Linked DNA regions of Homo sapiens: region 1 is linked to region 2. Evidence: fine-mapped expression QTL. A gene starts in region 2. The other region holds a variant in brackets. All regions are shown on one strand. Distances are from middle to middle.

The links.
Region 1: its variant is fine-mapped to the expression of SCTR in breast (GTEx, PIP 0.93). The same link has a PIP of 0.9 or more in subcutaneous fat.

Annotation. Positions count from the first base shown.
Region 1 is chr2:119,431,667-119,443,706 of GRCh38, forward strand. It overlaps TMEM37 (transmembrane protein 37), which reads left to right and starts at 188. Exons shown (of 2, transcript NM_183240.3): 1 at 188-258; 2 at 5,223-6,838. The coding sequence starts at 238. The coding sequence ends at 5,774. SCTR (secretin receptor) reads right to left here. Exons shown (of 13, transcript NM_002980.3): 12 at 9,892-9,933; 13 at 8,177-8,591. The coding sequence ends at 8,451. RefSeq lists a silencer at 1-339 and an enhancer at 623-1,129. The variant A/AGTGTGC (reference allele first, on the strand shown) is at 5,409.
Region 2 is chr2:119,516,154-119,527,672 of GRCh38, forward strand. It overlaps SCTR (secretin receptor), which reads right to left and starts at 8,330. Exons shown (of 13, transcript NM_002980.3): 1 at 8,002-8,330. The coding sequence starts at 8,073.

The sequences.
Region 1 (12,040 bases), 84 kb before region 2:
GCGGCTCCCCAGGGGCTCCTCCGGCCGCCCTCGCTGACTCAGCGTAATCCGAGCCGCGGAGGGCGGCGGGGTTGGCGGAGCCCGCCCGGGGTTAATCGCCGAGCTTTGAACGCCCCCTCCCGCCCCGCCCGCCTCCAGCAGCCGCCCCGCCCCTGCGGAGAAGTCCCGGGCTGGCGCCGGCGGCCACAGCGGAGCAGCTGGAGCGATCGAGGCTGCAGCGCGGCCGCCGGGCGCAGCATGACTGCCGTCGGCGTGCAGGTAGCCGGCGCCTGGCGGGGCGCTGACCCGGGGTGCTGCCCCGCCGTGGGAGGTTGGGGGTGGGAGGACGGAGGGAGGGGCGTACCCACCGCGAGCGCCGGCGTCGGGCTGGGGGTGCGAGCGCCCCCCGTGCCCGCCCCCTGTTGCAAACCTGGGTCCGGAGGAGGCTGGGCGGGGAGCAACCTCGGGGGGCCTGCCTGCCTCACATAGCTGCTCCCGAGGCGCGGACTCCGGCTGCTTCTGCTCGCGGCCTTGCAAGCACCCGAGGCTCCCAAACTTCATTTGGAAAGATTTTTCTTCTCTTTGGTGTCACCAGTGACTTACTGGTCAGTTTACCATAAGGGTCCCCCTTTGTGAGAAATGAGGCGCGTCTGGGGTGGAGGGACAGAATCGACTTGCAAAGTGAGGCTTATGTAACAGAGGATGCGTCTCTTGGGAAGTTAGACCTTTCTGGGGGTGGAGGTTAGGAAGACCGTCTCCCTCCCCAAAGCTGCGTTTGGGGTGCTGGGCTGGGGGTGGACTTGCTGAGTCGCGCGGACACCTCAGGGAAAGGCTCTGGCGAGGGAAGAAGCCCGTGTCTCCGAAGATTTGGCTTCTCCTTAGCGTAGTGCACGATGTTTATGTTGGCTAAGAACCTACACATTCCTACCCGCTCCCTCGGGCCTGCTGCTCCCCAAAGGGAAGTCAGTGGGTGGCGGTACCGCTGCCCAGCGGGCGAACTTCCTTTCCGCGCAACTCGCCCGCTGCAGAGTCTATCCGCTGGACTGTCTCCAGGATTAGAGAGGCCCGTTGACTTCGTGTACAAACGCTCAGCCACAACACTGACCTAGTAGACACCGTTCTGCCCATTGTATAGATGAGGTAACCGAGACTCAGAAGTAAGGTGCCCTCCGTGGCTGGCCAAGGAACAGAATCAAGATTCAAACCCAGGGCTTTCTGGCTCCAAATCCCACTGGCTCCTCCTGCCTTTACCTAACGGGAGAAACCCCACCCACAGGACACCCCCAAAACCGCTTCTATAGCCAGGACCTAGGCACCTGGGCGAAGCCGGGCATGGGGCGCAGGGAATTCCTCCCCTTTGTTCTGGGGGATGTCTGGAATCCCGGCCAGGCAGCATGGTGGGACAGACCAGGTGCGGTCCCTCCCCTCTAGGAGCTTACAGCCCATGTAGGGAGAGAGACTTGGAAACAGGGCATGGGGGAGCGAATGCTAAATTAAGAGGTGCAAAAGTTGCCAGACGGGGAAGAGGAGGAAGCCTGGTAGCAAGGTGGGAGCTCAGCTGGGGAGGCCACAGGCTCCAGGTGAAGGGCGGGTGCTCCGGCCGCTTCGGGATGATAACTCTTCATCCCCACAACCATGACTTGCCAGGGGGCAAACACAGGTAGGAAGCAAGTTCTGGGTCATGCAGGCAGCGGTGGGCCAGGCTGCAGCTGAGAGGAGCAGAGGCAGGCCGGCTCATCAGGAGGCTGTGAACTTCCAGGATGTTGACGATGGTGATGGCCTCACCTGGGTAGGGGCAGAGTGGGTGATGAGGGGGAGCAAATATGGGAGACATGTTGGGGATGTGCGGAATGAGTTGGGAGGAGCTTAATTTGTCTACCTGGGGGTGCTTTGGTTAAGGGGAACACATGAGGCCCTGGGTTATAGGAGGAAGACCATGACATTGGACTCAGTAGCCCAGTAGTGTCAAGTGACCCTATTCTATAGGTCACTAGAAATCATGCAAGGTTACAGATGAAAAAGGAAAATGCTTACATTTTTAGCAGAGCAGTTAAGCTCCAGAGAGATTTAAGTGATTGCCTAAAGGTACCCTGCAGGGGTCCTCTAGGTCAGGGGCAGGACTTGACCTCCCCGCTCCCTTCTTTTCCACTGCACACTTGTCCAGCTGCCCTCCAGTAGCCGTTTCAGGCCCTGCATCACTGAAAGCTGGTGGAGATGCCGGGTGGTTAGGAATGAAGACTCTATATGTGTTATTATTGTTATTAATATTAATAGCTACCATGAGTTGGGAGCGGCCCGTGTACCATGCATCTTTATATACAGGATCTCATTTGATTCCTGGGAGTTTCAGTGGTGGCCAGAGAGTTTAAATGAAGCCCTACTTTGGGGCAGGAGCGGGAGGAAACTAGATGAGGTCAGCTGTCTCCACTTTCTGATCCTGACGTGACATCTAAGGGCCTGGAGATTAAAGTCCAGTCTGCCTAGGACAGGTAGGGCTGGAGAAGGGACAGGACGTGCCTGTTTTCCAGCCAGCATGCTGTCTCGGGTTAAAAGGTTTCTGGGTCCTGTGATTTGTTCTCTGCCTGTGGTGCTCCTCCTTTTTAGGACCATTTATCATTCTCTAGGGACCTTGTAACCTTGCCAGGTGCCTTCATGGCTACGACTTTCCTGCAAGTGTCATTAACTTCATTTTCTAGATGAGGAAACAAGGGCTCAGGAAGTTAAGAAACTGCCCAAGGACAAACACCTCTAATGGTTTGTGGAGTAGACACAGGTTTTCAAAGTTTCCTTTGGTTTCTTTCTTACCGGTAGATTTTTTTTTTTTTTGTAATAAAATGCAATACAGACTCCTGGACCCCCAATGTCCCAAGCAGGTACAGGGCTCAGTTGAAGTGAGGAAGGGGATGCAGAGCCAGCCTGCTCAGCTTCCCTGCCCACCCGGCTTCAGCACTGGAAGCCCCACCAGGAGCATGGGGACACAGTTTGAGAACCACAGCCCATACTCTTAGCTCCATGTTTTTGACCGCACCCAGGCTGCCTTCATCTCAGCTAGGACCCAGGCTGGTCCTAGCTCTGGCATGGCCCTTGAGGCATCCCTCTGCACGCACCTTTTCCTCACCAAGAGGGCATGGGGCACAGGGAATTCCTCCCCTTTGTTCTGGGACATGTCTGGAATCCTGGCCAGGCAGCGTGCTGGGACAGACCAAGTGCGGTCCCTCCCATCCAGGAGCTTACAGCCCATGTAGGGAGGGCTGTAAGGGCTCAGTACTGAGCCCCTAGCACAAAGGCCCTGTCCTTAGAAGGCCCTAGTCAGTATTTATTCGCTGAACGGATTCCACCTCCTGCATATCATACAATTGTCTGGGCAGCCATAAAGAGCTTCATTGTGCTTTAGGTGAGTGATCTCAGGCAAGTCACCTGCCCTCTGCATAGTTTCCTTCTCTGTACACCCACCATGGAGCTTCCTACTTTATCAACCTCATAGGTTTAAGAATAAAATAGGATCCTACTTAAGGCAGAGGTGCTGAAAGCAAACTGCATCCTTATTCCTGTATCCCTGGGGTTGAAATTAGCGGTAGCTCCTGTGTCTGGGGCATGTGAGCAGATACTCTTGCTGGGCTCTTTGACCACAGGAGTCTCCCAGAAGCAGGGCTTTATTTTATGTCTCACACAGAGAGGAGTGGCCCAGACCTGCCTCAGGAAGCCTCCATTTGCCCATGGCATAGGACACACCCCATGTTCCTCACTGCTCCATTCTCCTGGGTCCTAGCAGTGACCGTCATGCGTGCCTGTTTTGCATACCTCCCAAACCGAGGTGTAACCTGGGCAGCTTCTAGACACACTGCAAAGCAGGTCATTTAATGTATGACTGTGCAGGAGACTCAGTTTAAAGGAGCTTCAGACGGAAGTGACAGTGGTTGCCAATGACCTTTGACTTATCTCACAGCTCTCCCTTGAGCACCCACTGAATGCCCAGGTATTGGGGACACAGCAGTGCCTAAACACAGAATGTGGTGGTGTGGGGGTAGGGGGCGGCCTTCCCAGAGCACACAGTGTTGGAATGAGACAGAAATAATATGTAACTACAAACTGTCCTCAGAATGGTGAAGAATTTGAACAGGTGCCTGACACAGAATACCAGGAGGGGCCTGACTCTGGGTTGAGTGGGCAGGAAAGCACTCTCTGTGGAGGAGACTTTAAGCTGAGACATGAAGAATGGAGAAGAGGTGTTGTCCTGGAGGGGTGGCAGGAGCTGCAGAAGAGCCACTACAGGCTTAAGGGCCAGTCATCTGAGGAAAGAAAGTTCTAGACATGGGGAGAGGGGAGTGTGCTGGGAGCTGAGGTTGGGTGGGGAGGCGGAGCGGATTGTGAGAGGCTTGTGGGCTGTGTAAAGAGTTCCTGAAGTCTTTCTTTTGCTTTCTGGGTCAGGGCTTGGGTGCAGTGCCCGGGTGGTGTCCTTGAACTGTGAGATGAGACACCTCACTGGACACCTAGCCTGGCTTGCCAGGAGACCGGGGTGGGGGCGCCTCCTTCCAGGGCTGAACCGGAAGTGGAGGAGAGCTGCAATGGCCTTCCCATGCCCAGAAGCTGCAGGAGCAGACAATGGGGTTGGCAAGCTCTGGGTAGGGTACAGGCCGCACAGGTCTGAGGGCAAGATGCAAATGTCACTTTCAGTACCAAGAAAAACGAGGCAATAATCTAGAGTCCTGGGCTGAACGTGGACAGCTCCCGAATCATCAGGTGGGTGGGGATTAGGACAAAATCGTGTATCCTGGGGAGATGGAGGGAAACAGAACTGTGTATTGGTGTGCTAATGTCTCAGTGCTTGGTACAACCCTGGCAACTCTGCCAGGCCGTATTCTTGTTTTATGTACAAAGAAACCGAGGCAGGCTGCATGCTCAAGGTCATGGGATGCAGGCACGACAGGTTTTCTGAACTCAGAACTGACTCAGATTTGCCAGTCGGTTTGGACTTCTCACCCACTCTGAAGATCACAAAAGAAAGAAAGGTCAGGAAGCTCTTAGTGCCTGGTGAATACTGGATGGTAAATGCTCACAGGTCTGGAAGGGAGGAAGGGTTCCCCCCAAACGGTGGGTCTGGTCTGTTCCGGGCTTCACAGGAGACCAAGCAGAGAATAAGACAGTGCGGAGCAGGATGGAGGGCTCAGGGGTCTTCCCTGCAGAGGTTCCTGGGGGCGTGGCAGGGCTGTGGCTGACAGGGTGCTTCCTACGGTTTTTTCCAGGCCCAGAGGCCTTTGGGCCAAAGGCAGCCCCGCCGGTCCTTCTTTGAATCCTTCATCCGGACCCTCATCATCACGTGTGTGGCCCTGGCTGTGGTCCTGTCCTCGGTCTCCATTTGTGATGGGCACTGGCTCCTGGCTGAGGACCGCCTCTTCGGGCTCTGGCACTTCTGCACCACCACCAACCAG[A/AGTGTGC]CGATCTGCTTCAGAGACCTGGGCCAGGCCCATGTGCCCGGGCTGGCCGTGGGCATGGGCCTGGTACGCAGCGTGGGCGCCTTGGCCGTGGTGGCCGCCATTTTTGGCCTGGAGTTCCTCATGGTGTCCCAGTTGTGCGAGGACAAACACTCACAGTGCAAGTGGGTCATGGGTTCCATCCTCCTCCTGGTGTCTTTCGTCCTCTCCTCCGGCGGGCTCCTGGGTTTTGTGATCCTCCTCAGGAACCAAGTCACACTCATCGGCTTCACCCTAATGTTTTGGTGCGAATTCACTGCCTCCTTCCTCCTCTTCCTGAACGCCATCAGCGGCCTTCACATCAACAGCATCACCCATCCCTGGGAATGACCGTGGAAATTTTAGGCCCCCTCCAGGGACATCAGATTCCACAAGAAAATATGGTCAAAATGGGACTTTTCCAGCATGTGGCCTCTGGTGGGGCTGGGTTGGACAAGGGCCTTGAAACGGCTGCCTGTTTGCCGATAACTTGTGGGTGGTCAGCCAGAAATGGCCCGGGGGCCTCTGCACCTGGTCTGCAGGGCCAGAGGCCAGGAGGGTGCCTCAGTGCCACCAACTGCACAGGCTTAGCCAGATGTTGATTTTAGAGGAAGAAAAAAACATTTTAAAACTCCTTCTTGAATTTTCTTCCCTGGACTGGAATACAGTTGGAAGCACAGGGGTAACTGGTACCTGAGCTAGCTGCACAGCCAAGGATAGTTCATGCCTGTTTCATTGACACGTGCTGGGATAGGGGCTGCAGAATCCCTGGGGCTCCCAGGGTTGTTAAGAATGGATCATTCTTCCAGCTAAGGGTCCAATCAGTGCCTAGGACTTTCTTCCACCAGCTCAAAGGGCCTTCGTATGTATGTCCCTGGCTTCAGCTTTGGTCATGCCAAAGAGGCAGAGTTCAGGATTCCCTCAGAATGCCCTGCACACAGTAGGTTTCCAAACCATTTGACTCGGTTTGCCTCCCTGCCCGTTGTTTAAACCTTACAAACCCTGGATAACCCCATCTTCTAGCAGCTGGCTGTGCCTCTGGGAGCTCTGCCTATCAGAACCCTACCTTAAGGTGGGTTTCCTTCCGAGAAGAGTTCTTGAGCAAGCTCTCCCAGGAGGGCCCACCTGACTGCTAATACACAGCCCTCCCCAAGGCCCGTGTGTGCATGTGTCTGTCTTTTGTGAGGGTTAGACAGCCTCAGGGCACCATTTTTAATCCCAGAACACATTTCAAAGAGCACGTATCTAGACCTGCTGGACTCTGCAGGGGGTGAGGGGGAACAGCGAGAGCTTGGGTAATGATTAACACCCATGCTGGGGATGCATGGAGGTGAAGGGGGCCAGGAACCAGTGGAGATTTCCATCCTTGCCAGCACGTCTGTACTTCTGTTCATTAAAGTGCTCCCTTTCTAGTCCTTTTTCTGCCCAGAAGTAGGTGATGTTATTGCCCTCAGCCCATTTCATTCTACACTGACTCCTTCCCATTCCCTCACCTGTTGAATTCTGGCTCCCAGCAATTGCATGGGTTTTTGGTCTCTGCCCCGGTCTTGTCACTGCTGCAGGTTCCTTTCCTGGTCTGGGCTGAGTGCCTATACCTACGTCTATTGTGATGTTTTAAATTTTTTATTCCAGGATGCATGGAGTCATGAAGCTGTCTGCTTTGTAGGATATAAGGCCATGGGCTTTAAGGTTGAACCACCAAGGTGCCCAGAGTCCATGGAGATCATCCTGGAAAGGTTTCCATGAATTGCTCAGTTTTACAGAGTACAGAGCTCATCAACCACACTGGCGGCATCTTAGCCTGGGAAATGGGAACCTGGAGCAATCTACAAGTTGCAAAGGGGATGTGTAACCCCCTGGTTTCTTCACGGGGAGGGGATGTATGGAGGTGGGGAGTCAGGGCCCAGAGAGGGATGCACTTGTCCAGGGTCACCCAAAGCTGGGAGTAGAGCTGACCCACCCACCAGCAGGATGCCTTTTCCTTGACACGGAGGGGAGTTTCTCTACTTCCCTCCAGAACGCTACCCCCTGAGCACTAGTAGGTTTGGTTTTGCAGAAGCGTTCAAAAATGGAGTCCTTTTTCATCCTCACATGGGGGCAGGGAGTGCAGATATTCAAAGGAACCAAGAACGAGAGTGGAGGGTGAGACTGAAGTCCCCAGGAGCTTAGAGGGGCAGCAGATGGCCCCTGTCCTTCCCTGCCTGGGAGCAGGGAGAGCACAGACACAGCCTTGGAGCATGGGCATTTGAAGTCAAAGGCCCTGGACTGAACTTCCGCCACCTCTTTGCTTAGTAGCTTGGGCAAGTCACAGGGCTTTGGTGGACCTGTCTTCTCTGAAATGGGATCATGCCCCATTTCCTGCTGTGTCTGCCTCAGGCCGAGGACATCTGTGTGGAAGAGCAGGAAAAATAGGGGTGTCCCCCTCACACCCTGTTGGGGGTAGTAAAAGGGGGGATAGTAAAAGGGACTGGGGGCCCTGGGGCTTCCCTGGCCTCCGTGGTGACTTTATCATATTATTTTAGCTGTTGTCCTGAAGGTTTGGGTGAGAGCTGCTAACCAGGTGAGTTACAGTAGGAGACAGACAGCATCCGCCAAGGGCAAACATTTCATGTTGGCTGGGCCTTCTAATCTGGTCCCTGAGTAACTGAGCTGGGGGACCAGGGAGGAGCCCGCCTCCTGCGGGAAGGCATTGGGAGCAGGCAAGAGCGTACACCCTCACCTTGTGTCAAGGCAAAAGGATGGACAAATATAGATTGAATCTCATCCCAGGCACCATTTATTTCCCTGTCCCTTTCTGGGACCCCTGAACTTCTCTTCCCAGAAGAGCAAACGAACCAAATCCCAGGCCCTTGTCCTGCCCCACAGTGCCTCACATCCCTTCGGAAGAGTCCAAGGCCTGGGGAGGGGCATCTTCAGCTGAAGGAGGACACAGGGTGTCTGCTGGGAAGACTGGCTGTCCCACAGCAGTGCCCAGCCTTCGCAGGACCTCTCTTGGTCTCTGTCCGTGGGTGACCCTGCTCCAGCCTCTCAGATGATGCTGGTCCTGCAGGTGCCCTGGCTCTGCTCCAAGTGGCTGGCCTTGGTGCTGTTGCTGAAGGAGGCCACGGGGTGCAGTGGGAACTCACGGAGGTGCCATTGCTGCCACTTCTTCTGAACCTCCAGCTGCACCTGCCCGGGAGACCAGCCATCAGCCCAGGAGGAGAGGACAGTTCTGTGCCTGGAGCCCTGCTCACTCCCCCAGTGACTCCACGCAGGCCCTGCCACTCCTGCCCAGCTGCCCTGTCCCCTAGCCTGCAGGCCACGCAGATTGACTGTTTCCAGCCCCAATGTCCAGTAGCTACTGAGGGTCCCCTCTCTCCTGGGCACATGCACCTGCAATCTCATTACATCGTGTCTTAAAGAAAGGACTTGTGCACCTTGGGACAAGTGTGTGCCCTTGACATTACAAGAGCAGTGGTGGGGAAAGCTAGCTCCCTGGCCCCCAGGCTGAGAGGAAAAGAATCCCGGATTAAGCCAGAGGCTGAGTTCTCTGAAGGTCTGGGGCACTGACAGGGGCTACTGGGCAGAGGGCCAGCTTAGAGGAGGGTGTGGTCTGAAGGTGTGGGTAGGGCAAGGCCTGACTCCACTCAGTGATGGGTCCCCAGTGATTTTAAGTGATTTAAGATGGGTCCCCACTTATTCCCAGGAAGCCACCCAAGCTCAGAACTGATCTGGGAACTAGGGAGTTTCTCTTTGTAAATTTCCTTCACAATTCCCAGCTGCAGCAGCTGAACCTTTGAAGCTAGGCTTGATATTTGATTTTTGGGAAACATCAAAGATCACTCCCATTCAAGTGCAACAAACCAGATAGATGGTCAGTAGTCACAGAAAGCCTTAGCTCATGTTAACCACATAGCTCTGTATGCCCAGAGCCTGGGGTCCTGACCCAGATGCTCCATGTGAGGCTCGAGTCCTCAAAGTGAGTGTGCAGTCTCCCAAGGAGTCAGTGCTCATCTGGAGGTCCCTAAGGATTGAGCTGCAGACAGTTCTGAGTCACCCGTTTCACATATGGGCAGACTGAGGCCCAGAACAGGGCAGTGACTGAGATCGCCCATTAAGCAAGCAGCAGGGCAGTCAGGAACCTGGGTTCTGCCCAACTTTCCTCCTGCATTTGCTGAACAGATCAACATCGGCACCAGGAATGCTTGTTAAAAAACACTTTCTCAGACCCCAGTCCAGACCTACAGAATTTATTTCTGTGGAATGAGAAACTAGGAACAGGGTCCAGCCATGGTTTGAACAAGCCTTGCTCCCATTAAGCAAATTCAGACTCCTAAAAGAACTGGCCAAGCCACCTGCCACCAGACCCAGGACTCCCTCTGACCCTTTCCATCCCCCTTCCTACCACCCCTCCCAGGTAGCTCCTTCTGACCCGGAAACCAATGGCTAGGAGCTCTCCTGGGTACCTGGGTGACCCAAGACTACTCACCTCCCCATTGAGGAAGCAGTAGAGGACGGCCACCACCAGTCCCTGCCAGAAGAAGAGAGGTAGCAGGGTTAGCACAGGTGCTCAGCATGCGGCCTGAACCAGCTGGCCAGCTGCACCCTCCCCAGGTCTCTTAATCACCAGCTACAGGCTCATTTCCCCACCTCTCTTGCCTCACTGGGAATTAGGCTACCTCTTGTGGGCTGCCCACGGTGGCCCTGGCTGTGCTGGCTCATCCAGCATAAACTGTGAACTCCTTGCAGCCAAGGGTAGGCTCCCTTTTGAACACATATGGTGTCAGGGGGGCTGCTAACCCAGCCAGCCGGGATCAGGAAGCTCACCTGGGAGCCACAGGGATGGGTGGCACCTGAAGTCCGCCCACTCTGCCAGGAGGAGTGCAGGCTGCCCAGGGTGAGACCCTGGGCCCTGTGTGGTCTTATTTCAAGATAAACTGGAAATCTGAATATGTTTAAATGTAGATAACTAATTCAAATTGAAAAACAAATGTGTAGGCAGAACAAACTATGTACAGGTCCCGGCCAGCCAGTGGTGAGCAGGGTTGGAGCTCCCTGCTTAATGGACAGGTGGGTGCACCTCCGTGCTCAGAGTTTTATGTTCCCTGGTGTGGCAAGGTCTGTGCCTGTAAGACCCTCCCTCCCTGGTATTTGGAGCTCCTGATTTCCTGATGGTGCCCCCAGGATCCTGGTGTGGAGCTCTGTCAGGGGAGGGACTCCAGGCTGGGGCGCCTGCTTGGAGCCTAAGAGGCCTCCAGATCAGCAGGAAGCAGTGTCTCTGCGGCGCATTCACCCTGCTCCTCTCCTTTCTCAGGGACCCACCTCAGGCCACCCTTCTCTCCCTTACGGGCCTGCCCTCCCCACACAGAGGCCTGACCTCAGATGGCCCAACTCCTCCTCCCTAGTCCCACCCAGGCCTGCCTGTAGCTACTTATGATATTGGAAAGGAACCTCGAAGGGTGATGAATCAGCTCATCGATGGTGGGCTTAATATGTACAACTTCTCAGGGATATTGGCATTTTAAAAAGAGTTAGTGGCGAAGCTGGAAGGGTTTGCTTTAGAATTTCAGGTATCAATGACTGCTACATAGACTGGGGACTATTTGAGGGGCAGAAACACTCAGGGCATCGGTTTCCAAGTATTGCTGCACATTAGAATCACCTGGGACCTTTTATCCAGGTTGCACTCCCCAGATCCCAGTAGCTGGGGGCATCAGCAGCTTTTAAAGATCCCCACACAGTTCCAAAAAACGGGCATCATGGTCCGGGAACTACTGTCAGAGAGGGAGTAAAAGGCACTTCAAGGCAGGCTTTGAAATGAAACAGACTTGGATCGGAGCACAGCTAGGCCTGAGTAATTGTAGGTCCCAGGTGCTTCATTTAACCTCGCCAAAGCTCTCGGAGGCAGGTGGGAGGATCTTCACCTCACAAGCGAGGGAACTGAGGCACGGAGGGGTTTAGGCATGCCTGGAGCTCTGTGTGCTTGGCCCAGAGCCACGAGCAGGCCAAGGATGCTGCCCGTTGCATGGGCTAGGGTTGCCTGGCCTCCGCTGCGCTAGGGTCCAGGGACACATTTTCACTGTTCAGGGGAGGGAGTTAGCTGTGCTCCAGTGTATATAGGGCAGGCCTCACACAAGCCAGCAAGTTTACTAATTTCCACCGTGATTCTGCGATCATTAAGGATGAAGACTTTGAAGAATTTTAATGACATGAAGAAATGCTCATGATGGGCATGATAGAGAATTAAACAAAACAAGCAAGATACAAAACCATACACATCATGATCCCAATTATGTGTGTGTATCTTTGTGGAAAGAAAAGAGACGGAAGTAAACACACCAACACTTTAACAGAAGTTATTTCTGGGTTATGACGTTCTAGATTTTTTTCTTATTATTTTTCTTTTTTTGAAAAACTTTTCCTTATTTCCCAAATTATTCACAATAAGCAAGCATTATTTATACAATTAGAAAGAGTGAATACATATTTTTTTTTGGAGACGGAGTCTCGCTCTGTCACCCAGGCTGGAGTGCAGTGGCGCGATCTCGGCTCACTGCAACCTCTGCCTCCCAGGTTCAAGCAATTCTCTTGCCTCAGCCTCCCGAGTAACTGGGACTACAGGCACACACCACCATGCC
Region 2 (11,519 bases):
TGGAGCTTCCTCAAAAAAATTCAAAATAGAACTAACATATGATTCAGGAATCACACTTCTGGTCATAAACCCAAAGGAAATGAAATCAGCACCTCGTAGAGGTACCTGTGCCCCCATGCTCACTGAAGCACTATTCACCATTGCCAAGATGTGGGAGCAACTTACGTGTCTCTCAACAGATGAATGGATGAAGAAACATGCTGCATATATACAATGGAATGCCAGTCAGCTTTAAAAAAGGAGATCCTATCATTAGTGACAACATGAATAAACTTGAAAGACATGGTGCTAAGTGAAATAAGCTGGTCACAGAAAGAAAAATACTGCATGATCTTACTTATATGTGGAATATTACAAAGTTGAATACAAAGCAGCAGGGAGTTGAATGGTGGTTGCCAGGGCCTGGGAGGGGGTGGGAATGGAGAGATATAGGTCAAAGGGTATGAAGTTGCAGTTACACCAGGATGAATAAGTCTAGAGATCTAATGTACAGCATGAAGACTATAGTTAATAATACTGTATCGGGCCGGGTGTGGTGGTTCACGCCTATAATCCCAGCACTTGGGGAGGCTGAGGTGGGCTGATCACCTGAGGTCGGAAGTTCAAGACCAGCCTGGCCAACATGGTGGAACCGCGTCCCCACTAAAAATACACAATTAGCCAGGCATGGTGGCGCATGCCTCTAATCCCAGCTACTCGGGAGGCTGAGGCGGGAGGATCACTTGAACCTCTTGAACCCGGGAGGCAGAGGTTGCAGTGAGCTGAGATCGCACCATTGCACTCTGGGCTGGGCAAAAAGAGCGAAATTCTGTCTCAAAAGTAATAACAATAATAATAACACTGTATCGTACACTGGAATTTTGCCATAAGAGTAGATTTCAGGTGCTCTTACCACACACACACACACATGCACACAAATGGTAACTTTGTGAAGAAACATATGTTAATTTGCTTGACTATAGTAATCACTTCACTGTGTATTTCAAAATATCATGTTGTACACTTTAAGTGCTTTTTTTTTTTTGAGACGGAGTCTCACTCTTTCACCCAGGCTGGAGTGCAGTGGCACAATCATGGCTCACTGCAGCCTCTACTTCCCTGGTTCAAGCATTCCTCCCGCCTCAACCTCCTGGGTAGCTGGGACTACAGGCACACACCACCACACCCAGCTAATTTTTAAAATTTTTTGTAGAGACAAGGTCTCCTATGTTGCCCAGGCTGGTCTTGAACTCCCAGGCTCAAGCCATCCACCTGCCTCAGCCTCCCCAAGTGCTGGGATTACAGGAGTGAGCCACCGTGCTTAGTCTACAATTTTTATTTTTTAAAAAAGATTATAAAAAAGAATCCAGTGAATGTGGCAAATCGAAGGGCACTGGTGAGGCTGGTTTCTGTGGGTGGAGCGTGGGAGCCAGGTTGCAGTGTGAGAGTGAGTGAAGTGGAGGCAATGAAGGTGGACGCGTCTTACAGGAAGCTGGCCACCAGGGGGCAGAGAGCAGAGGGCTATTTACTGCCTGGGCTGGATAGACTTGGGGAAGTTAACCAGCTGATGAGAAAAGTCAGCGGAGAGGAAGAGGGTGAAGGTTGGGTGAGATGGCTGTCATTGTGTTGTCCTGGGAAGGAAGTCGGTAGGGGTAGGAGTAGGGACAGGCTGTTGTCTGGGGAACAGCCTCTCTTCCACTTGGATGCTGTTATGGACTGAATGTGTCTCCACTAAATTCATATGTTGAAGCCCTACCCCCAGGGTGGCTGTATTTGGAGGTAGGGCCCATAAGGAGGTAATTAAGGTTAAACAGCATTGTAGTAATAGGGCCCTGATCCTATAGGATTAGTGTCCTTACAAGAAGAAATACCAGAAAGGTGTTTCCCTCCCCTCCCCTGCATCCACACACTCACTGGAAATGCCACATGAGGACAAAGTGGCCATGTGCAAGCCAGGAAGAGGGTCCCCACCAGAGACCAAACCCTTGGGGATCTTGATCTCACACTTCCAACCTCCAGAACCGCGAGATTAATTTCTTTTGTTTAAGTCCCCAAGTCTGTGGTATTTTGTTATGATAACACAGCTGACTAAGACAGACGGGAAGGAAAGGAACAGAGGGTACAATTTAGACACATCTGTAAGGGCAAGATGTTGGTTAGAAGTTCATCCAGGTAGTCTCAACTCTTGGGAAATGGAAGGTGAGCCCATCTGTTGAACATGAGAGGGAGGCGGGAGGTGAGAAATTTGAAAGACACGTGGCCATCAGGAGCACGCCTAAGAGCCTCAGGTGAGGGAAGTGGGGTGGGGCATGGCAGGATCTGGAGATGACTCTGGGAACCTCAGGAGCCTGCAGCACAATGGGCTAAGACTGCGGGACGTGATGAACCAGGGATGACCCTCCCCAAATGCCATCCTTGGAACAGACGCACAATGTAGAGGCTGGGTGGGCCCCAGGAGTCCATAGGAATGCTGAGCAGCCTTCTGTTTGTAATGTAAGCAAGTAGATAGCATCTGAGTATTGTGGTTTTACCTTGAGCTGCAGGTTGTCCCGAAGCCTGAGTGAAGGTCAGTGGTGAGAACCTACAGCTTGCTAAGAGCAGGGATGCAGAGACCAAGCTGGGGCTCACTGCAAGAGGCTGTTCTGGTGGTGGAGCTCGAATCCCAGATATTAAATCTAGGCTTTCAGCAAGGGGGTGCCAGGAAGAGAGGCTATGTCCTCCCTTGTCATGGTAGGAAATCTGGGGACTTCCCAACCTGGGTGGGGATCATGAGGACAGGGTGAGGTTGGGAAGTTCTGCGGGAACTCCAAAGGGTGACGATGCCAAAGCAGGTGGACTCCCCCTTTTTTTTTGAGACGGAGTTTTGCTCTTGCTGCCCAGACTGGAGTACAATGGCATGATCTCAGCTGACTGCAACCTCCGCCTCCCAAGTTCAAGCGATTCTCCTGCCTCAGCTTCCCGAGTAGCTGAGATTACAGGCCACCACGCCCAGCTAATTTTTTTGTACTTTTAGTAAAGACAGGGTTTCTCCATGTTGGTCGGACTGGTCTCAGACTGGTCTCAAACTCCCGATCTCAGGTGATCCACCCGCCTCGGCCTCCCAAAGTTCTGGGATTACAGGCATGGGCCACCGCGCTCCGCCTAAGTGGACTCCCCTAAACTGTTTGGGAACTGGTATCTCCTCCTGTTGGATTTTGTGACCCCATGCTCATTTCTGGGCCCCTCAATAAATGCTGTGTGTAACTCAGTATTTTTTTATGTTTCACAAATTGATTAGTTTAAATGAAAATTAATGCTATTTTGAAGTTTGGGAGATAATTTTATGACAGCTCCTTGGGCACCAGAAACCCGGAACAGGCCTCTCTTTTGGAGCAGATGCATGTGCTGGTTAAGAAGCTCTGCGGTGGCTCACGCCTGTAATCCCAGCACTTTGGGAGGCCAAGGTGGGTGGATCACGAGGTCAGGAGTTCAAGACAAGCCTGGCCAATGTGGTGAAACCCCATCTCTACTAAAAAATACAAAAATTAGCCAGACATTGTGGTGCATGCCTGTAGTCCCAGCTACTCAGGAGGCTGAGGCAGGAGAATCGCTTGAACCTGGGAGACGGAGGTTGCAGTGAGCCAAGATCTCGCCACTGCACTCCAGCCTAGGTGACAGAGTGAGATGAGACTCTGTCTCAAAAAAAAAAAAAAAAAGAAAAAAAGAAAAGAAAAACAAAGAAAAAAAAAAGAAAAAAAAACAAAAAAGAAGTTCCAGGTTTAAGGTCTCATGTCACCATGTCCAGCTGGGTGGCCTTAAGCAAATGGCTTCACATCTATCCAAGTGTCAGTTTCCTCATCTGCACCATGGGGCTAATAACTGTTGAAGTGAGTGTTAGTGTTAGGAGGGACTCAGCAGAGTGTCTGGTAGAAAATAAGAGTCAATTAAAGGAGCCTTCATCATCCTTCACTTATTAACTTCAGGGATAATAAAAATCTCAAAAGAAATCCACAAATACTTCTTCAGAAAACTAGAAAGTGTTTTTCCAGGTACACAAAAAAAATCCCCAGTGACCCTCTCTGAAAAGTCATCAATAATCAGCTCCCAGGCTGGGCATGGTGGCTCATACCCATAATCCCAACACTTTGGGAGTCTAAGGCAGGAGGATCACTTGAGCCCAGGAGTTCAGGACCAACCTGGGAGACATGGTGAGACCCATCTCTAAAAAAATTAAAAAATTAGATGGGGATGGTGGCAGGTGTCTGTAGTTTCAGCTGCTTGGGAGGCTGAGGTGGGAAGATCACTTGAGCCAGGAAGTTCAAGGCTGCAGTGAGCCATAATCGCACCATTGCACTCCAGCCCGGGCAACAGGGTAATTACCAGCTCTGCAGGCAACGCTTGCAGGCCTTTCTAAGGTTCTGCTCACTGTGCAGCCACAGGGCTTGTCAGCTTCTGGATCCAGATGCATGACCGGACAGGGCAGCGACCACCATGTACTGAAGGCTTCCATGTGCCAGAGCCTGTACTTGGAATTTTTATATTTCTTAGCCATCAACTGAGGAGGGATGGAGATAGGAGGGAAAAAGATGGGAAGGGAGGGTGGAATAGATCAAGGAAACATTCTCCACAGAAGTCCTTTGTCCAGTTTGGAAACTGGTTTTCATCAGGCACACCTGTTTCCATCCTCTGACTCAGATGCCGTATCACCAACCCCACTGCCCCAAACCCAATGTGAAATGAATACCTATTGTTAGCCCTATCTGTGTATCTGTCCTGAAACATGACAACCTTTAAGGCAACGGTTCTCAAGCAGGGGCGATTTTGCCCTTCCTACCCCCAGAAAAAATTTGGCAATGTCTAGAGATACATTTTCTGTTGTCACAGCTTTGGAGTGATCATGGGCTTCTAGAGGGCAGAGGTCCATGATGCTGCTAGACATTGTACAATGCACAGGACAGCTCTCAGAAGAGAGAATTATCTGGCTCCAAATGTCAGTAGTGTGAAGAAACTCTGCTTGAAGGAAAAACCAGCCCCACACACCTCACTTAACTCACTAAGGTTAACAAATTGGCAGTTTGCCAAATGTCATGGATTAAAAAGCCCTACCTTGAGTGACTCTTTCTCTACAGCCTGACACATTTCTGTACAATTTAGCAAGTAAGGAGTGCTTTCAAGAGGTGATTCTTCCTTATTTGTTGCTGCATCAGCATGATTTCATTCAGTCATCCATGCATTCATTCAACAAACACTCACTGAGCTCCTTCTTACACTGTGACAGACTCTAGGGATGAAAGATGAACAAGATGAGTCTCCATGTTCAAGTTCAAAGTGTGCATATTGGGGTTTGGGGGACAGATGTGTTAGTAAATAATTACAGTAATGTTCCAGGTAAAAGTTCTCATGAGATGTATGGGGGTGGGGCCGCAGAGGGGGCTGTGATCAGTATTTCTTATAGGGAGGCCTCAGAAAACTGCCCCATTCGGCCACTTTTTGGGTTTCACTTACAAGGGTCACTTCTGACGCCTCCCTATATGGAGTAGAGGGAGAGCGGTAATAAGCAATTTGGCCTCACTGACCCCCCTCCATTGGGAAGATGCCTATAATCTCCCTCAAGGGGGAGCTTCAAATGAATAAAAAATTATTTGAACACACTTAGATTTCAAAATCAAATGTGTGACCACCCAGAGTCAAACAGAAGGAAAGCAGGGCTCCAGAGGCTGGGAAATATTCCAACCAAAGTAGGTCAGTTCCACTCCTATTTATTACAGGAGTTCTCAGCCAAGAAGTGTGAGATCTAAGGTCTACAGAAGCCGTAAAATAACCCAAGGACCACGACTTATACACAGGAAACCATCTTGTGATTATGTAAGGCAGTAATGCACATTTGAAAATACAAGGGACCGCCGGGCGCGGTGGTTCATGCCTCTAATCGCAGCACTTTGGGAGGCCGAGGCAGGCAGGTCACCTGAGGTCAGGAGTTTCAGACCAGCCTGACCAACATGGAGAAATCCCATCTCTACTAAAAATACAAAAAATTGGCCGAGCATGGTGGCACATGCCTGTAATCCCAGCTACTTGGGAGGCTGAGGCAGGAGAATCCCTTGAACCTGGGAGGCGGAGGTTACAGTAAGCCAAGATCGCGCCACTGCGCTCCAGCCTGGGCAACAAGAGTGAAACTCTGTCTCAAAAGAAAAAAAAAAAAGAAAAAGAAAAAGGAAATACAAGGGGTATAAAAGACAGAGCCCTGGATGGTTGGGAATCAAGAGATCTGGGTGCTAACCTTAGTGGGTTAAGTGGGGTATGTGGGGCGAGTAGAGCTGCTAGTCCCGGCTCTACTACTAACTTGCTGATCTCGGGCAGCTCCCTTCTCTCTGAGAGTCTCAGTGTGCTCATTTTTAAAATGAGGGATTGGGACCATAGCATAATGAAGCATCCTTCCAAGGTACACTGAAGACTTAAACCAAGTGAAGCCTCTCATTTTCCCCTTCCATTTATTCCTGTGATAATCCAGGGATTTCCTTGAGATAAAAATGTAGGCTGAACCTCAGTCCTGCACTCGAGGTACCAGTTACGACAGTCTCAGAGTCACTGCAAATACTTAAGAAGGAGGCTGGGAGGGTCCCAAGGAAGGAGCTATTGCCTCTCCCACCCCCAGCCACGGAATAACACACCTTCTGGCTCTACCTGGCTTTGCACTGTCCCCAGTATCCCAGTTGGCATTTCTCCAAATTGGGAGTCAAAACTCATGAGTGCATGCTGTTGCTCTAGCGTCTTCCAAGGCCAGCACTGCCACTGAAGAGAGGAGGCTCCACGGTGGCAAGGGAGCTCCAAGCAAGCTCCAAATTGCACTCATCCCAACTACTGCTGCTGAAAGTCTTGGGGCTACCAGAAAAATGAGCATCTCCTGAGTGTCAACACTCTGGTCGGCTCCGGGAGCATTGGTTTTCCTTATAATCAAACCAGAGGAGACTAAGGGAAGACAAGGAGGCTGGACACCATGAGACTTGCCCAGGACAGAGATCAGAGACTCAGTTGGGTCCCCAAGCGCGTTCCCTGGGGAGCTTCTTGGAAGAGACGACTTGGGGACCAATTTGGAATGCTAGTGGGAAGGGATGATTCTGGAATCTGGCCCCCACCTCTAACCCCCACTCCCTCCCCATTCCTTCCTTTCTGCTGGTCTGGGTGGGGCCACTCTCTTTATCAGAGATCCCGGAGCTCAGAGAGGCCCGGGACTCCCAGGAATTTCTGTTGGAAAGAAAAACAAACCACCCATCCTGCCGCTATTATTATTATTATTATTATTATTATTATTATTATTATTATTATTATTTTCCTCCTCCAGCCCCTTGCCAGGACCTGGCTTTGGGGAACAGCAGCGCCCTGGAGCCACCAGGCACGCAGACATTAGGGAGCCGCATCCCACACGAGACGGTGTGGGGAGAGCGGCAGGCGGTCCCATCGCAGACCCAGAAGCTCCTGCCAGAGCTCCCTCAGGTTTTCCCATCCGCAGCCCGTGAGTGTGAAAATGTCAAGGTTTGGGGGCAGACTGATACTGATGTGGGTTCCAATCCTCTTTTTCTGACTTGCAGCAAGAATTTTTATTCCCCCTCTCCTCTCCTTTCCTTTCCTTTCTTTGTCTGTAAAGTGACGGTGATAATAGCAGCCTCGAAAGGTGATTACCAGGTTTCAAGGAAAGATTGGAGGCAAAGCGCCCAGGACACAGTAGGCACTGCCACGGGCGGCTCCAGAATTTCCGTGTAGGAGAGTTTCAGAAGCCAGACCAGAGGAAGGGGTCGGTGGTGGGCACAGGGATTCATCTTAGAGCCGCCTTCGTCTGGCGCGCACGATGTTTTTCTTTGGGAAAGGGTCCCTCCGGAGAAGAGCTGGGAGAGATTAATGTTGGGAGGATTGGGAGGGAAGAGTCCCTATTCCTCATGGGAAGATCTGCTAGTCCCTCTCCACCTGCATCCTGCCCGAGGCCGGAGAAAGGGCGAGACTGTCGCTCCCTCGGGTCCCCAGCCTGCAGAAGGGCGCAGTACTCACCGAGTGCGCGGCGCAGGCGAGCAGCACCGGCAGTAGTAGCTGCTGCAGCGGCGGCGACAGGTGGGGACGCATGGTGCCCGCACGTTCCCCGAGGGCGCCCCGACGTCCGCCTGCCCGTGCCCTCTGCCCGCTCGGGAGCTCAGCGCCCCGCGCAGGGTCCCGGGCTCCGGCCGGCCGCTGCGCCCCGAGGAGCCATGGCTGAGCCACCCGACCTGCGGCGGGCCCCGGGACTGCTCCTCCTCGGACCAGGTGGCCGCGCGCGCTAAGCCGCCCGCCCCATTGATCAGGACGCGGCTTTGCCGGCGCGCCTCCTCCACCCGGCAGGGACTGGCGCGGGGTCGGCGCGGAGGCTGGCAGGGGAGGAGGCAGAGGGAGGGCGCGGGGACCCGGAGTCGGCTCCCGCAGGCTGGGCCCAAGCTGGAGGAGGCCAGGAGAGGGCACGCTGGCTTAGCCTTCTACGCGGCAATCCCGCCCAACCCCGGGTCCGGAAAGAGCACTGTCTCTGGAGTCCACGGACAGAAAGCGCAAGCTCGCTGGGGGCCGGTGGGCAACTTAGGTCACCTTTGTAAGCCTCGGCTTTCTCATCCCTAACAACACGTCTGATAATACCCACTCTCGGACTGAAAGTTGTCACACAGTCGAGGCCCATTGCATCTATTCCCCCCGATAGCTACCTTGCACTTTATTTCCGATTTTTTCATTATTGAAGTCATTAGCGCTAATTCCATGAAGTTTCACTCCCATGAACTCCTCCTTTGATGATGACCAAGGAGGATCTGTGGTACACTCAGGCATCTGGGGACCGTCCTGAGGATGAACCCCCTGGGAGGCTATTTAAGCCTCAGGCAGGTAGTCCCAGTAGCCCTCTCCATCGGTGCTGTGTATCCTGGAGGTTTGCTTTTGGCCTCTTAGTACAAGGCGTCTCTTAGTACAAGACGTCCTCTTAGTACAAGGCGTCTCTTTTGGCCTCTTAGTACAGGGCGATGGCCCTTTTTTACTGTTACATAAAAAAGAGAGTCTCACCATGTTGCCCAGGCTGGTCTTGAACTCTTGGGCTCAAGAGATCCTCTCACCTCGGCCTCCCAAAGTGCTGGGATTACAGGCATGAGCCACTGGGCCCAGCACTAGATGGGTCTTGCAAACTCAATTTTCCTTAGTCTGCACTGGTGCCCACTCCCTTCCTTCTTCTCTCTCCTCCTTTCTTGATCTTTCTCCCAGGCACTTTAAGTACATCAGCTCATTTAATTCTCCCTCACACCCCTAGGTGATACGATGTCCATTTGACAGAGGAGGGCATTGGAGGTGGAGGAGGATTCATTACATGTCTGGGTACTGCAACTCAGAGGCTCAGACAGGAAAGCCTGAATCTACCCTTACATGGCTGACCCGACTCTCTGTAACTGGCCCTTACGCAGAAGGCCATGCAGCTGTTAAGGTAACAATGTGTTGTCCTTAGCAGCCTTCCCTACCGGAAGAGACTATTAGTAAATTGAGGCTGGTAAATCCCAGCAGAAATAAAAGGGAGGAAAATCCATTCAGCTCCTAGGTCCAAAACCAATGCTCAGTACACATCAAACCTAAAGTATACATAATCACCAACCCCCTGCTAGAAACTCTTTCTACATAAATACTCACCCAAGGGCCTAATGAAATGTGCAAGGATGTTTGCGGAAGCACTATGACAGTGGCAGGAAACGAGATGATATATGGGGAAAGGGAATCACCCTTATTTCTTTCTTTCTCATGGGCAGCAGTCATTACTATAATGCTCCTGACTTGTTTCTACCCCTTCCCTCTCTCTGTCTGTCTATCCCCCACCTCTCTCTCATGTGCACCCACACGCAAGCATGCATGCAGGCACGTATACACAGGTGAGGCCAGCTTACATGATTGATGCATTTGGAATAAGGAACTGGCATGAGTTCGGTCCCCTCCTCTCTCCTTCCTTTGACAGTGTGCCCCCCTACAGAGAGCCTGTAACTGGATTTCCCTGGGCCAGGCTGTGATTAGTGGTCGAGGCTCTACTGGAACTGGTCCAGTATGAACTGTTGTCTCTCTAATTCTGGGGTTTAGTTAGGAAACCCACTTGCCTACAAGTATAAACCACATTCTGCAATACTGACTTTATAAAGTGATATTTGGCCGCATCTGTCTTGATCTTATTTCTCAATTGGTTCAAGTTTCAGGCTAGAAAGAAAAATGTTATTTCCTAGGCTGCTTGAACCGCAGCACCCTAAATATCCATCGCAAAGTGCCTGAGGTAAGGACTTGCAATTTTTACTATACAGATTTCTGTGTTGTTTGAATGTTTTCTGTAACAACGCTGCGTATGGCTGTTTGGCGTTGAAATAAATAAAAAGAAAACAACACAAAAATGCAATCCGTGCTTTATACCAGAGCTTCGTGATATCTGATGAAAAAACAAAACAACATTAGTTCTGGGCAATTCAATACATTTCTGGCCTGTAGCAAGCCATTCTTGCTTAAATGGGAAGCTCTGCCTCTCAGAGAGTTGAGAAAAGGGATTGAAGTGCTCCCTGAAAGGTCCTTAAAACCTGCCTAAGACAATTTCACAATAGGGGTAGAAGGGAAGAGGTAGGAAAACTAACCATATATTTACCACCTGTCGTGTGCTGGGGAGTCTGTTAGGAAGCTCGGGTGTGTTATCATATCCAGTCCTCCAAGACCATAAAAGAGATGGGAACTTGAGGCTTAGGAAAGATAAGTGCTTGCCTCCATCAGCACAGCTAATAAGGGGAGGAGCCAGGATTTGAATTCAGGACTGAGCCCAAGCCTGTGTCGTGAAGGAAACAAAATATTTCACTCTATTATTTGACATATTTTGAGATGGCTGTTCAGAGGGCCTCCAAACAGAAGTAGCCCTGCAAGGCTGTCTTTTACTGGGGAGATTGCATCTGGAGAGAGAACTCTGCACTGATGCAGCCAGGCTTTCTCTGTGGAACCTCCCATATCCAGATCTAAGAAAGGTTAACTGAGAGTTCAACACCTTAACTGTCTGAAAGACACACACACACACACAATCTGTCCTCTCTTAGGCCTGCTACCTGTGAGGTTTCATCTGCATAACAAGCCCAACTTTACCAGCCAGGCCTCCTCTTCTCCACCACCCCCCAACCTATTTTGCCACACACCATAAGCCCCCATTCTTCCTGTAACTTCAAGATGGAATATGAAAGCGTCCACCCTCTGGCCATTTCTTTGAGTTGTGTTTTGAAAGACTCCTGTGCACATTTTAAAATTTGCATGCCTTTTCGCCTATGAATCTGCCTTTTTTTTTTTCAGTTGATTTTCAGTGGAACTTCAGAGGGCAAAAGGGAAGTTTTTCCTTGGTGCCTAGAGCTCTTTGCATGGTACTGGGATTCCTCTCCAACATGGAGATGGTCTCCTTGTACTTAGGCTTCACAAGCTCTTTTGTGTGCATCTTCTTATTAATTAACAGAGCTCTGTGAGGTAGGTAGGGATGAGCAGGCAGGGGCCTGGCAGAAGAAGGAGAAACT